Regions from separate parts of the Homo sapiens genome. Here region 2 is linked to region 1. The links come from fine-mapping of genetic effects on gene expression. Tissue or cell type: whole blood. Region 1 holds a variant in brackets; the other region holds the start of a gene. All regions are shown on one strand. Distances are between the middles of the regions.

Region 1 (8,261 bases):
GGGAAGACTGTTTAATCATCTGCACCAAAAAAAACCCCCTGCATTTTGACAAGTGTAAATGTCAAAAATCCCATCAAATCAGAGTATAATTATAGGCTTAATATACTATAACTAAGGCTTCCAATACTACAGTCCAGAAACCCAGTGTGAATTTTCCCATTTTCAGGTCTCCCAAAAGCTTGACTGCTGGATTAAGAAGGCACAGGGGCCATTACTTACGACAAAGTGACGCAGTACTTCGGAAAAGTAGGAACGGGCAGTGCCAGCGAGCTTCTACTGACTTAAGCAGGGTGCCCGGCTGGATCAGCGTGAGAGAGTGCTCTGCTGGCTCCTGTTTCTGAGTTGGGCCCAGGCGAGCTGCCAGGGCAGTAGAAGCTTCAGTGGGAGACAGGTCAAAGGGGTACTTGTTTTCAGATTTTAACCAGGTGGGTGCTACGTAGCACACGGAAGAGCAAGCTCTTAAGGGTAGCATCTATCAGGTTTTCAGATACTAAACAGAAATGAGCACAGTCTGTACTTGTGTGCCAATTTTAAAAGCTTTGCCAGTATTTAAAAATATATGGTCAGGAGGAGACTTTACAGTTTCTCTTTACAAACGGTATATAATGGGAGAAATGGCCTTGTGGCAGAGGACAGTCCCAGACAGCAGCCTTGCCACAGCTCAAGTAGACACAGTCCTTACTAAGTCTCCACGAAGAGCAGTAGCTGGGGAGGGCTTCTGATGCTCTTATTTACAATCCCACAATCACTGCTCTCCTTCAAGTCTAGCAGTCCCACTGTATATTGCAACTTGATCGTACTAAAGACCGACAGCAAAGGATACAGCCAGTCTCGCCTCTGTGAAGTGTTGCAGAGAACCTGGAGAGTGCTAATGAAAAGCTGTTTTACCAAAAAGTTGCCACGGGCAACCTCATATACTTAGGCTTATGTTTAGAAAGAGCAAGGGTGCTACTGGTAGACACTTGAAATTCGAAGTGTTTTTTGTGAATAAAATGTGTTTATGGTAACTTAGGGAAAAGTCGTAGTAGGACAGCAAACGTGGTTCTACATGTACATGAAGTTAGACAAGCTGACTCCCCTCCTAGAAAGCCTACCTTTCAGGCACATATTTGTGCCAAAATCCCAGTGAAGCACAAACAACAGTAATTTATATTAGTATGTGGCACAGTTCACATTTCCAATAGAACTTCATCTTCCCTGAAACAATACTCAGTACAGTCTCAAACCACACAATGAGTCTCATCTTAAGCTCTCCGGTCCTTCTACCTGTGAGTGGTCATCTTCTGGGTGTGGGACCCCTTTCTGGAAGGCCTCGGTCTGGTCGGTGTGCTGAGGGCTGGGAGCCCCTGGGTGTCCCTCAGTGCTGCTGGCCTCGAGGGTGATCTGCTCCGGCCCACTGGATAGGCGCTCCACCTTTTCTAAGTCTTCAATGTGACTGACTGAGCTGGTCTCACTCAAAGCATCTGAACCTCGCAGGGACCTTTTAAAAGGCTTCTGGCCTACAGAAAGGGCAGACAGACTGCGCTGAAACTCAGTGAGGATACTTCTGCAACACAGGCTGTCTCTGCAACAGATAATTGCTTTATTTCACAACACAGCTTCAGCAGAAACCTTTACTGGCTCTGAGGTGTTTTAGGAGATGAGAAAACCGAGAGCTGCTAGCTTGACACCAACATGCTCCCCAGGCCGGGGAACTCTAAGGTCATCTTCATTAGGAAACGCCCAGGAGGGTAAACACCACAGTGACAATGTCATCTTTCAAGACCCCAACTTCCCCTTAGCGCACTACCGTGGGATTTCTTCAAGGCTGAATCCCACGGCTACCAAGATGGTTAAAGAGATGGTAGTAGTTGGTCTTAAGAGAAATAGACCTCTGGAGTTCAAGAACCCAGAAAACAAACGCAAGTAACAGTCAACAGGGGAAACCTGTTACCTGAACTCGGTGCAGAGGCGTCACTTACCTGGAAGCCTCTGCTTGGTGCGACTGCCCGAGGGCGTTGGAGGCAGCGTGACTCCTGCACCTTGTGCTTTGTAGACATATATGGGTTCTGTGGACTCCAGAGAGCCTGCGGGAGAGGAGAGGGCTGGGTAGAAGCTACAGGCACAGGCTGCCCTTGAAGACACCACCTGCCCTCACACAGCCTTGCTCCCCAATAACCTCCTTCCAGCCACTGAGCCTGCCACAGACTGGTGGAGAGAAGGGCACTTATGAATGTGCCGTGAGCTAGAGAAAGCCACCTCACAGGGCCAGTACCGCCAGCATCCGCCAGCAGTATGGCGTAAGCACACCCAGGGAGCCAGGCCCAACAGGGAAACGTACTGTAGCCACAAGAAGTGGGTGCCTTTTTGCTGAAGGCTAAGGCTTGGCAGATTAGAAATCAGATTATCTTTTGCTTTCATGACAATGGAGTCATCGTTTCCTGGGAAAGAATGAAGGAAGGGGCTCGAGTGTAGGAAATTATTTCCTTGGTAGAACAGGAAAGGAGTCACGGACTGTTAACACCCTCCCCACATTCCAGCGGCTGAAACGCTTGCTGGCTGCCTGGTTCAAAATAAACCGTGCCAGCACTCCATGCTTCAGTCTCTGCATTGCCACTTGCAAAAGCTGTCCTCTGCTGGGGCAGAACACACATGAAGACAAGAAGTATTAACCCTGAACCAAAATGCCCAAGACACAGCACCCTGAGAGTCTGCACGGCTGAGTGGGCGTGTCCTCATGGCCTTGCGGTGGTGACAGCTGTGGAGAGTGGGTAGCTGCTTCCTTGCTGTTTCAGCCGCCAGGGTGCGGTGGGGAGGAGGACAGGGCACACCAGAACTTGTCTCCTCAGATGTCCGGCCCACACCCAGTGATGAAGAACGGGAACCAGGGCGGGATTCTCAGTGGGAAGTGTTGGGACCCAAGGGCATTTGGTGAAACCTCCCAAGGTCAGCAAGACCTGGGAAGAGGCTATGCCGTCCTACCTGCTGTCAAGTTAAAAGTTCTTCCCTTCTGTAAAGCCTGGACCGGAGAAAACCAATTCAGCACGGAGCCCACTACAGGGATCTGCCGCAACACCCCCTGCAAGACAGGACCAGAGTTCAGGGCCACCTGGCCTCACGGCGGCTCCCCCAGCCTGCTGCCCATCGGGGGCCTCACCTCTTCCAGAAGCCGTTCTTCACTTGCCTTCTGCAGCTCCACTTGAGCTTCCTGAATGCCTTTCCGAACCACTTCTGTCATGTTTTCCAGAAGCTGTGGCAAGACCAAGAAAGACATTACTTGTTTAAGGTTCTCACCTGGGGCCCAGAAGAGCTAGTAACACAGCACTGAGGGAATTTTTCAAAAGCAGGTCAATGAAATCCTGCATTGAAAAGCCGGCGTAAAACGAACAGAAACTCAAAGACAAGCAGATAACATGCTCATAGAGGCCTAGGCAGACACACCTTGGTGACCAGCCTCATTTGCTACGTATTCTTGAAAACAGAGAAGTCATAAAGTCAGGCTGGAAAGAAACCTTAAGGAGTCCACCCAGAAAGGAATGAAGCTGGCTTCTCGGCCGCATGTCCAATGGCTCGTGTCTCTCTCCTTTCAGAGCAGTCTTACCTTGGTCCCTCTTCTCTCCTTTTGAGTGATTTTTAGGGAAGTAATCATCTGTTTGGAGGATACCTTATCAGCCTTGTATCCTGGTCCTCCATGCTAAGGGACCCACAGCAGTAGGTCTATTCCTGGTGGGAAGTGCTATAGGGAAGGGGTGTAGGGGGAACCACACATACAACAGCCCATTTCATTCACCCTCAGGACACAGCTCCAGAGCAGAAGTCCTCCCTGACCTTGGTGGCAGGGGTGAATGTGTCTGCCTGAGTGTCCAGCTACCCGCCCTCTTCTCTAAGGCAGGGTTACTACACAGCGTGGCTATGTGGATCTTTCCCCCTGAGCTTGTGAGATCACTGGGGCATGGGCTGTGTCAAACCTACTTGGCATCTCTGACACCTGGCACAAGGCCCAGCTTACAGGAAACATTGACAGACTTTGAGAGACAACGAACAGACATCCCAAGGGCAGCTGCTTTCCTCGTGGCCCCTGCTGTTTGGTGGGACAAAACTCAGAAGAGGAATGAACACTGATGGGTGCTACGGACCCTCGAGTTCTCCTCTATCTCCCGGGCTGTGGCCGCAATGGTCTCCACGAGCTCAGCAGCATCGACGTTGTCGCTCGCCATGCCGACATAAAGGCAGCTCTTCATGCTCTTATACTCAGGGCCTGCAAAGGTAACGAGACAAACTTGAGTTTCTCAGTCCTCTGTCATGGGTGAGACGTGGACCTACTCTCCTGTTCAGGGTCCTGACCACACACAAAGGGGTCTCCTCCATGGAGATTCTAAGGGCGGAGAGAAAGGCCTGGCAAGGCTGCAGAAGGGGAGGGAGGTCTCAGAACCGCATCTTCGCCTGGAACCCAGCCCGAGAGGCGCTAGCCCGCTAAGGGATGAGCCGTCGTCTTCAAAGCCGGTTACCAAGTGTCCTTCCAAACCCCACAGCTGACTTACAAAGTAAGCAGTTACCTATTTTAAAGGTTAGGTCAGATTCCAGTTCATTTAACTTCTTCAGGAGTCCAGCATGGATGTTTTCCCCTTCGGGATCTGATTTCAAACTGCTCTTATCATCATTAGCATGTTCATACCTAAAACAACATCAAACCACAGCATTTCAGCTTAAAAGATCAAATGTCTCTTCTGATACAGGATTAGAAACCTCTAAATATTAGCAAGACAATGCAGTGGAACCAGTGGGCAAAAGAGCTACTGCGAGTGTCTCCAGACCACAAACTTTCTGGAAGTGTGCCAGGAGTAAAGAGAAAGTCACAGGAAAGCCTTTTTTTTTTTTTTTTAAAG[C/G]AGGGTCTCACTTGGTGGCCCAGGCTGGGGTGCAGTGGCATGATCTTGGCTCACTGCAACCTCCACCTCCTGGGCTCAGTTGATCCTTCCATCTAAGCTTCCCGAGTAGCTGGGACTACAGGTGTGCACCACCACCTCTGGCTAATTTTTGTATTTTTTCTAGAGATGGGGTTTCGCCATGTTGTCCAGGCTGGACTCAAGCTCCTGGCCTCAAGTCATCTATGCTCCTGTTGGCCTCCCAAAGTGCTGGGATTACAGGCATGAGCCACCGTGCCCAGCTGAAAGCCTAAGTCTTTAGTTCCATACAAGGTCTGGAAGTCTCATGGGCAATACAAAAAGAGGTTTGCCTCACCTCTGAAGGCGAGAAAGCAGCCATAGGACTGCACCCAGTTCTCTCCCCGAGAGCTGGGTTCTTTTTCTTACTGATTTGCAATTCTCTATATGCCCTGGATAGTAACCATTCTCAGTGAGTGATATATACCTGTTGGCATCTTCTCCTAGGTAGCTGAGAGTCGGCACCTACAGACAGAACATTCAGCAACTCCCCTCCCTGAGCGCCACGCTGGCCAAATTGCCTGCTTGCACTGTGCTTTTGTAAATGCCCAGAAAACCGAGTTGCATTTTCGTTAAGCATATTGTGACTACACGTTCATCTTGGATTTCTAAGGTGGTTCAGAAAATGACCCACTCATGTTCTTTATACAGAAAAGTCTCCAACATCAAGCGGCAGGCCAAGACTTTACCTGACAACCCCTATTCCAGACCAGTTAGGGTCATCAACATATAGGAGACCTGCTGTTGCTTCCACTTCCTGCTTGAACTCTTCACGCAACTGGAGCGTACAGCACAGCACTGGCAGTTTGCTTTCTATGCAGGCTACGAGCTGATCCACATCCTCTCCCCGAGTTCCTAAAACTGAAGATGTTCACAATGTCAGAGAAATGCTCACGAGATGGCCAATGACAAGAGGGCAGGGCTCCCTCTTCCACTACTGGGAAGGTCAAAAGCTCGAGGTACTCCAGTTACCGGGAGCCATGGAGATTTAAACAAAAAAAGGCCCTCAACACAGATATGGAAGAATTAGGGTTAGAAACAGACACAGCTGGCTGTAGCAGGTGTGGAGTGTTTCTCTCACAGATGTGGCCCACAATGACATACTCCAGTGTTAGAAATCACTCTTCCCACAGCAAGCCTACTTCAGGCAGGCTGGAGACATCACACCATAGGTTCAGCACAAAAAGGCAACCACAGATTCTGTACATTCCTATGACTGAGAGAAAGGGAAGTACTGTGGTGGGCTGCTGTCCCCACACAGGAAGGACAGGGAGATGGTGACAGCGCCGGGCCTCAGGGCTCACTGGCTTACTTTTGCAGTTTTAGAGACTAAGTATCTAGAGCTGTGGCCAGGCAATCCTTATAGTGGCCAGTGCTTTGGGAATCTGAGCCAGGAGGATCACTTAAGGCCAGGAGTTCAAGAGCAGCCTGGGTGACAGAGTGAGACCACGTCTCTATGGAAAAAAAAAAAAAAAAAAAAAAATAGATGTGGTGGTGCTCGCCTGTAGTCCCAGCTCCTTGGGAGGCTGAGGCAGGGGATTGCTTGAGCCCAGGAGGTCGAGGTTGCAATGAGCTATGGTGAAGACACTGCATTCCAGCCAGGGTGACAAATGAGACCCTGTTTCTAAAAAAAAAATAAAAACCAAAACACAGATCCCCAGGCTCCATTCTAGAATCTCTGGGGGTGGGCGGCCACTGGTTGTGTGTAAAGCTCCCGGATGACTCTAATGTGCAGTGGGGAGTGAGAACCCTTGTAGTGGAAAATCGAGAGTCACAAGACATCAAAATATAGGAATTCCAGCCTGGCCAACGTGGCAAAACCCCATTTCTACAAAAAATGCAAAAATTAGTCCAGTGTGGTGGCTCATGCCTGTGGTCCCAACTCCTCGGGGGCTGAGGTGGGAAGATCACTTGAGCCCAGGAGGTCAAGGCTGCAGTGAGCCATGATCGCACCACTGCACTCCAGCCTGGGTGACAGAGCAAGACCCTGTCTCAACAACAACAAAAAAGGAATTCATGTGATGACTTTTTTTTTTTTTTTTTTTTTTTTTGAGATGGAGTCTCCTCTGTCCCCCAGGCTGGAGTGCAGTGGTGTAATCTCAGCTCACTGCAACCTCGGCCTCCCAGGTTCAAGTGATTCTCCTGCCTCAGCCTCCCAAGTAGCTGGGACTGCAGGTGTGTACCACCATGCCTGGCTAATTTTTTGTATTCTTAGTAGGGGCGGGATTTCACTATGTTGGCCAGGCTGGTCTCGAACTCCTGACCTCAGATGATCTGCCTGCCTTGGCCTCCCAAGGTGCTGGGATTACAGGTGTGAGCCACCATGCCCGGCCAATTCAGGTGACTTCTGAATTCTCATTCTGATTCTGGTAAGTTACATGGGAATGCTAATCTACCTAAATTTAGCCCAAAAGAAAAGAAAATGCCCCTCCAAAAAGAGCTGCTAATAACTCTAGGAGAATGGAGTATCATAAGGGCAAGCTAATCTACCCAGCAGCCCCAGAACAAAAGCAAGGGATGTCCACCAAGCCTGGTTTACCTGCTGCGGTCATCAAAGGGCTGAACCGCAAACACGTGCCCTCAGCTTCCAGATCCATGACTGTGAGGCCGCTTGCAGGCACCAGCTGCTTCAGCTGTTCTCCCAGCTGTGAGGAGGACACAATGAACACCCTCCTGTAACAAGGGACTCAGACGTCTTCAGGACCCACCCTCATCCCCTCGGCCCCAGACCAAAGAGCCTCCTGGAGAGCTGATTCCTGCTCTTTTGACTGTCTGATTACTTAGAGCAGCTTTTTAAAAACAGTAAATTTTATGGTTTTTTCTTATTAATACAAGTTCATTGTAGAAAAATTTAGGAAATACAAGTAAACAAAAAGAAGAAAATAACAATGACCCACAATATATTACTAAGCGACACCCACTGCTGACATGTGGTCTGCCCCCAGCGTCTTTTCTCCTAGTGGCGGGCAGGGAGTTGTAGTTGTTGTCATAAAACATGCTACTTGACACTGCTTAGTAACCTGCATTGATTCATTTCGTTTATGACCAGTTCCTTTCTGCTTGAGACACTCAGCTCTGTGGTCTCTCACAGCTGTGCTGAGCCCCAGCATGGATGTACCAGGACTTATCTGCCAACCCTGCTAGGCTGGGCGTGTCCAGCATTGGCTAGAACTGCTGCTGCCGCCATCCCACACTGTTCACAAGACCCTTCAGACTCAAATCCTAGAGCTGCTATTCAGTGCCCAAAACGCTATCAAAGTGCAGGCCTGGCTCCACACTGCCAGCTGCAGATGCTCGGCAGACTCTGCCTGGGGCTCCCGGCTGTGCTGCCCAGGCTCACCA
Region 2 (8,000 bases), 58 kb after region 1:
ATGATCAGGAATGTTCCATTGATGCTGCTATAAACCTCTAGCATAACAGCAAGGTGACAAAGAATTTTCTAAAATCAGTCCCAAATAGCAGGAAAGAAACACTTAGCTCAGGATGAGTTCAAGAACCAAAAATGGGCTGAGTTGTGCTGATTTAGGTCAGAAACAGGGTCAAAGTTGCCTCTTTCAGAGATGAGAATTAGATATAACAAGTAATTGGCTGGGCACAGTAGCTCATGCCTGTAACCCCAGCACTTTGGGAGGCCGAGGCGGGTGGATCACTTGAGGTCAGGAGCTTGAGACCAGCCTGGTCAATATGGTGAAATCCCATCCCTACTAAAAATACAAAAATTAGCCAGGTGTGGTGGTGGGTGCCTGTAATCCCAGCTACTTGAGAGGCTGAGGCAGGAGAATCGCTTGAACCCGGAAAGCAGAGGTTGCAGTGAGCAGAGACTGTGCCACTGCACTCTAGCCTGGGCGTCAGAGGGAGACTCCATCTCAAAAAAAAAACACGAATTGCCAGCTCTTAGCACTGTCCAGTGGAACCTTCTTTGCGATGGAAATGTTCCACATCTGTGCTGCCCAGTGTAGCAGACATCAGCCACATGTGGCTGCTGAGCACTTGAAATGTGGCTAGCATGACTGAGGAAATGAATTTTAAATTGTGTTTAATTTTAATCTCAATGTAAACTGCCAAATATGGCTAGTGGTGACCAAACCGGAACTGTAGCTCTAGATTCCCTAAATTAGGGACTTTCAATGACAGGCAATTCCCTCTACCCCTTGGGGGACAACTGCCCCCATCTTGAGACATTTCTTATTGTTACAACTGGGTGTAGGGAGTGCGACTAGCATCTACTGAGCAGAGGTCTGGGACACTGCTAAGCATGCTGCCATGCACAGGCCAGCCCCCATAACAGCAAATTATCTGACCCAAAATATCACTAGTGCTGACGCTGAGAAACTGCTTTAAGTTTGCTCAAGGACAGAATTAAAGTAAATGCAAACAAACTGCAGTATACCTTGCCTAAACATAATACCCAGGAAGAATGAGATCTTTTAACCAACAGAAAAAGGTCTGGGCTATTCTACAAGTTTAGAGTAGCAGGTTTTGGCCTGGCACGGTGGCTCACGCTTATAATCCCAGCACTTTGGGAGGCTAAGGCAAGAGGATGGCTTCAGCCCAGGAGGTTGGGACCAGCCTGGGCAATATAGTGAGACCTTGTCTCGAGAACAAAAAAATTGTTTTAATTAGCTCAGTGTGGGGGTGAGTGCCTGTAGTCCCAGCTACTCAGGAGGCTGAGGCGCGAGGATCACTTGAGCCCTGGAGACGGACGTTGCAGTGAGCCGAGATTGTACCACGGCTCTCCAGCCTGGGTGACAGAGAGAGATCCTGTCTCAAAAATAATAATAATATAACAGGTTTTTACTGGAAGGTGTGTTTAATAACTTAAAATCTTCATCATTATAGTGATTACTTCCTGTGGCATTTTCCTTATTGAATATTAACATAAGTACACACTGTGAGACTCTGCTACAGGGCCTTGTTCCTTATGCCTTGGACATACAGTGGGGGGCAGGGGCAAAGCCCCTACTCCTACTCTCCTAAGTTTGAATTTCCTTTGCCTCCTCAATTAACCCATCTGATTTATTGGGACATCACTGATCTCAGATACAAGAAAACTGATACTGTTGTGGAAGAAAAGCAAATCGTGACGAGAAAATGGCTCTGTTATCACAGGTCTGCACGTTTACATAACAGAAAAAGCAAGGGACAGAACTATATTTGGACCAAATCCAAATCACTGAGTGATTCTACTAAATGATGATCGCATACTACATTTTGTTTTTGTTTTTTCACATACATTTTAAAGTGAGAGATATTATTTTAAATTTTAGAGGGTGAGCATCAAATAACATTGTGGTTTCTGTAATCAGTATAAATTATGCAACAATCAGTTTAAATGGGATCATTTACAACTGCTCACATAGCTCTTGAGTTTATATTAACAATGTAGAATTTAACGCAGGATAGTCTATTCCTCAAAGAAACAGGAATAATGAACACAATTAAATGTTTCACTTTGACCCAGACTATTTTTCAGAACATAAAGTCATCAACATTCATATTACAGCAATGCTTTTTCTTTTCTGCCCAATTAGCACCAATATAAATCGTTTATTCCATCTAAGGCCCTGTATTACTTCAGGGAATATAAATCTAAGTCCCGGCCAGGTGCAGTGGCTTACGCCTGTAATCCCAGCACCGTGGGAGGCTGAGGCTGAAGGATCACAAGGTCAGGCGTTTGAGACCATCCTGACCAACGTGGTGAAACCCCATCTCTACTGGGAATACAAAAATTAGTCGGGTGTGGTGTCACACGCCTGTAGTCACAGCTGCTCGGGAGGCTGAGGCAGGAGAATCACTTGAATCCGGGAGGCGGAGGTTGCAGGGATCCGAGATCGCCTCACTGCACTCCAGCCTGGGCAAGAGACCGAGACTCCCTCTCAAAAAAAAAAAAAAAAAAAAAAAAAAAAGTAAGTCCCATAGTTCTGAAAAACTTACACTCAGAATTTTCACATTGACCTAAGGCAGAAACCTCCAGCCCACACGTTCTGAATTCCTAAAAGATCACTACAATTTTTGTGAATGCTCCAATATTAAACACACTGGAATTTCAGTCCCTCTTGCGATCCTCATTGAGAGAGTTTAAGATCTTTTATCATCAATTAACACTTAGGGAGCAACTACTGTAACCTACTGATCAAATGCCAGAAAAGTAATATTTAAAGCAGGATTCTGACCCACCCTGCAGATTTTCCTATAAAGGCTAATTATTCCTGGAGGAAAGATCACCCCAGTTCTTCAGGATTCCAATTACAATCACATGAAGCCCACCCACCTTCTTAGGAAATTGATAACACCACTTTGCATCGTTTTGTACTCAACTGCTGGTGTTATAAACATGATCTTGACCAGGATTTCTCAGCCTCAACACTGCTGACATTTTGGGCCAGAGAATTCTCCAGCGTGGGGGGCTGTCCTGTGCAACGTAGGATGTTTAGAGGCGTCCCTGGCCTCTACCCACTAGGTACCGGCAGCACCTCCCTGCCCCCATTGTGACAATCAAAACTATGTCCAGAGATAGCCAAATGTCTCCTGGGGAAATAAATTGCCCCCTGCTTTAAGAACCACTCATCTGGACAAACTCAAAGTACCAAAAGGTAGACACCCTGCTAATCAGACGACCGGAAAGACTTTATTCCCAGCCAGGAAAACACGTAACATTCACCCCAGAGATGGCACAAGAAAACCATATTATCTTTTTCTTGTCTTCCACCCAATTTATGCTAAGCAACCCAGGAGTAGGCTATACCACTGTGAGCACATGAAGACATCTGGCCCAACCTTTACAATTATTGCCTTCAACTCTCCAGTGACAAGTGAACAAAATCTACAGCAGCTGCTGCCTTGAAAAAAGACAAAATATATTATTCCTACCAGCTCAAAATTAAAATGTAGCCGTCTTAAAACACGAGCATTGCTCCTGAATGCCACATGCATGAAAAACCGGGTATGCACTGGATTGGACAAGCAGACTCCCAAGCTGGAACAGACAGAAGGGCTTTGAGGGAGGGCAGAATGTCAGGTACCGAAAGCAGGAATCCGTGAAGAAACCCAAACTGGTTTCCATTTACAAGCCCTAACACTGGGACAATGAGAATCCGTTTCACATGGTAGAGCAGTCAGCCTGGTACACCACGCTGCCGTTCCCCCAAGGGGAAACCAGAGGTAGGCTCTGTTACCAGTGGATTTCGAGTTGACTCGGGGATCCCTCCTCGCCACTGGAATGGGGGAGCCAGGAAGTTGTGGAGCAGCTGCGATCCCCAAAACTCAATTCGCAATCTACGCAACACCCACCCCTTTCTGGAACTCAGAGGTTCTCGCCCGGTGATCGCAGGCTCAGCATCAGAATCACCTGCGTGGGGCGGAGTGGGAGCGGGGCGGTGGCGGTTAAACACGCAGTTCCCGGTCCCGCCCCCAGAGGTTCTGACCCCGGGACTGAACCTCCGCATTTTACCAAAGGCCCCAGGTGATTCCCACTCAGGCTGAAGTTGGAAAACCACTGCTTTGGCAATTTTCATTCCTAACTCGGAGACCAAGAAAAACCTACAGGTTTGCAGCTGGCTCTGAAATAACTGCGGCTTCTTTCCGGGAGCATCTGGGGCCGCCAACGGAGAGCTCCCGGTCCTCCGAAAGGGCCAGCCGAGCTCAGGCCGGCCACTCGCGGAACCTCGGCAGGGCCCAAGGTCGGCCCCGCGGTCCCAGTCCTGGGCTCCGGGCCCGTCGCGGCCCCCACCGAACCCCGCCCAGCCTCTTCGGCCCACGGGGACCCAAGAGACACCCGGCCCCGTGACGCGCCCGGGCCCCAGCCGCCCTCCCGGCGAGGCCTCCTCAGGCAGGGCCTGTCAGCCCGCGTCCCCCTGTCCGGGTCACAATGGCAGCTCGCGACTGGGAAACAGTTGCCTCGGAAGCGGGAGCCCCGGGCCGCAGCACCGTCCCCATCGCCCCCTCCCGGCACGGACCTTCTCCAGGGACGCGTCCATGGCTGAGGCGGCCGGTGGTGGCCTGGCGGTCCCGGGCTCTACTTCCTCCTCCCGCGCCCCGCAGCTCCTTCCACGCTGGCAGCGCTGACGTCCCCCGCGCCCGCGGCCGGCGGGGCGGAGAAGAGGAGGAGCTGCCAGGCGGCGCCGCGGGCTGCCGAACCTGATGGTTGAGAGGCGGCGGGGCGGGGCCCCGTAGCGCTGGGCGGAGCCCTCTGGGATTCCGTACCTGGGCGCCACGCCGGCCCTCCCTAACGTGCGCAGGTGAAGGGGGGAGGATGCCCGGTGGATTGTTCACCAAACTCTTTCCAGCAGCCTGTTGCAATCATCAAGGTAGAAGTATAATAATCACAAAGTACTATTCATGGAGTGAAAGGCTGGAAATACTAGTGACGCACCTCACTTCCGGGCCCAGGCTTCCAAGTCTCCCGCCTCACCTCCCGCCGGCATCCCTCGAGAATGGAACAGGCCATTCGCCAAGGAGGCGGTGAGCGAGTGGGCAACCTTGCGCATGCGCAGGACTCGCAGCGTCCTCGGCGCCCGGGGACTTGGGGGTTTTGGGGTTGGGGGCTGCTTAGTGAACGCTGTTCAGAGAAGGCACTGATCTAAGCTGAGGTGTTGTCTCAGACCTTACCGCCGAATTCTAGACGGAAAAAATTGTTGTAACAACCGGTCCAGCCTCTTTCATGTCACAATTATCACTTGTCAGGTAATGGGTAGTAGTAATAATGATAATATTAATACATCAGCTGCTGTTCTTCCATTTTCCTATTTCAGCAGCTCTAGGAGATCATTATCCCCATTTCGCAGTGCCGATCTAGGTAGGATTCAGACCCAAGCCCCATGAGTCCACATACTGCTTCCACTCCTACTTTACTTTAAATGTTTTAAAAAGTTAATTTTTTATTAATTTTTTTATCTTGTTAACCGATGAACTGAAGAGAAAAAAAATTAAAATCTCATTTTAATAGAGAAGGTAGGGGTGTCTCACTATGTTACCCAAGCTGGCTTCAAACTCCTGGCCTCAGGCGATCTTCCCGTCTCAGCTTCCCCAAGTGCTGGGATTACAGGCATGAGCTACCACGCCCGGCCACTTTTGCAATTTTACTGCAATGTGTTTCGAACGAATGGGGAGGGCGTACATTTGCTTAGTAGATTCCTCCCACCTTAATGTGGGAAACTGATATAGACTACCACAGTGGCAATCAATGGAACACTTCACCTCTGCGATGACGCTACAACCACAATCTTACTCCTTTTCTCTCCTGTTTTATACTCTTCGTCCCGAAATCTGTGTAAACAGGGTCACATTTTCAGCGCAGTAACTCCATGTTTTGAGCTATCTACGTTGTATTTGGTAAATTGCCTGGTTATGTTAATAAAATTATTTTCTACCAAAAAACCCTTGTGTGCTGGTTTAGACTGTACTGTGGGGATTATTCTGACTCTCTAAAGAGCTTTCCAAACAGAAGGAAAGATAGATTTATGTCTTTCAAGAATTGAAGATTGAATGTACCCCTGCTTGAGCAAAACAAGTCACTTTTCCAACGTGTTATGAAATTTTTCAAACGTAGAAAAGTTTAAACAGTTGTACAGTGAACAACCATATACCCACTACCTAGATTCTACAGTTAATTTTCCCTATATTTGCTTTAATCACATATGCATCCATATATCCATCCATCGATATATGTTAGTACATTTCACCTCTGAGCACCTCAGCATGGGTATCATTCAAAACTAGTAAATTTTACTAAAGTCACCTCCAAGTTTCTGTGGATTACATTACAAAGTATAATAGATTCTACAAAACAAATACTAGAGAGAAAAGTTAACTTTACTGTTTTAAAAGTAGACTTTGAAAACCCAACATGAAAAAGTGGAAATAATCAACCGTATTATTTATTATATTTAGCCAAACATTTATTGACTGCCATCTTGGACAGTTGTGCTGGAAATAGTATGTAAAAGAATAAGAGGCTGGTTCAAGAGCAGCCTGGCCAACAGAGTGAAACTCCGTCTCTACTAAAAATACAAAAAATTAGCTGGGCGTGGTGGCAAACACCTGTAATCCCAGCTACCTGGGAGGCTGAGGCAGGGGAATCACTTGAACCCCGGGGGCAGAGGTTGCAGTGAGCCGAGATTGTGCCACTGCGCTCCAGCCTGGGCAATAAGACGAGACTCCATCTCAAAAAACAATAAAAATACAAATAAGAGGCTGGGCCGGGCGCGGTGGCTCACGCCTGTAATCCCAGCACTTTGGGAGGCCGAGGCGGGCGGATCACGAGGTCAGGAGATCGAGACCATCCTGGCTAACACGGTGAAACCCCGTGTCTACCAAAAATACAAAAAGAAATTAGCCGGGCATGGTGGCGGGCGCCTGTAGTCCCAGCTATTCTGGAGGCTGAGGCAGGAGAATGGCGTGAACCCGGGAGGCGGAGCTTGCAGTGAGCAGAGATCGCACCACTGCACTCCAGCCTGGGCGACAAAGCGAGACTCTGTCTCAAAAACAAAATATAATAAAAAATTTAAAAATTTAAAAAAGGCTGGGCGCGGTGGCTCATGCCTGTAATCCCAGCACTTTGAGAGGCCGAGGTGGGCGGATCACCTGAGGTCAGGAGTTGGAGAACAGCGTGGCCAACATGGTGAAACCCTCGTCTGTACTAAAAATAGAAAAATTAGTGGGTGTGGTGGTGTGCGCCTGTAATCCCAGCTACTCGGGAGGCTGAGGCAGCAGAATCGCTTCAACCTGGGAGGCGGAGGTTGCAGTGAGCCAAGATTGCACCACTGCATTCCAGCCTGGACGACAAGAGCAAGACTCCGTCTACACACACACACACACACACACACACACACACACACACACACACACACAAAACAAAGACAAGCTCTCTGCCCTGAAGAAAAACACTATTTTGGGTAGAAGTTTTTACTTTGGGATGCAGATGGAGGTCTCTGAAACTATACTCAACATTTTGTGTGTGAGTGAGTGCATTTTTCTGGGGAAAACATCCATTGTCTTCATTATATACTCAAGTCTGTGATTCCCCCATCCCCGAAAAAAAAAAAAAAAAGTTGAAACCATTTGGCTTGTGGATGCACAGATAGGAAAACTGATACATTATAATGCAACATTCTATGGACTAGTGAAGAGAGATAAGCAGAATATTGTACAGTTTGGAGCATGAAGCCATCAGTTGTGGGGAGGTTTAATCTCTACTGACATATGGCTTTATGTGCTGCTAACAGACCTGTCTTTTTCTTTCTTTTTCTTTTTCCAGACGAGTCTCACTCTGTTGTCCAGGCTGAAGTGTAACGGCGCAGTCTTGGCTCACTGCAACCTCTGCCTCCCCGGTTCAAGTGATTCTGCTGCCTCAGCCTCCCGGAGTAGCTTCGAC

Evidence for each region. PIP is the estimated chance that this variant, and not a neighbour inherited with it, causes the effect.
Region 2: PDXDC1 starts here. The variant in region 1 is fine-mapped to the expression of PDXDC1 in whole blood (TOPMed, PIP above 0.99).

What each region holds. Positions count from the first base shown.
Region 1 is chr16:15,029,254-15,037,514 of GRCh38, reverse strand. It overlaps PDXDC1 (pyridoxal dependent decarboxylase domain containing 1), which reads right to left. Exons shown (of 23, transcript NM_015027.4): 16 at 7,459-7,564; 17 at 5,609-5,780; 18 at 4,536-4,654; 19 at 4,116-4,237; 20 at 3,137-3,229; 21 at 2,962-3,058; 22 at 1,962-2,066; 23 at 1-1,499. The coding sequence ends at 1,240. Among named protein-coding and RNA genes, the nearest start is that of NTAN1, 23 kb to the left of the region's middle. The variant C/G (reference allele first, on the strand shown) is at 4,866.
Region 2 is chr16:14,971,805-14,979,804 of GRCh38, reverse strand. PDXDC1 (pyridoxal dependent decarboxylase domain containing 1) reads right to left here and starts at 4,779. Exons shown (of 23, transcript NM_015027.4): 1 at 4,585-4,779. The coding sequence starts at 4,605. RefSeq lists an enhancer at 4,698-5,461 and a silencer at 5,619-5,913.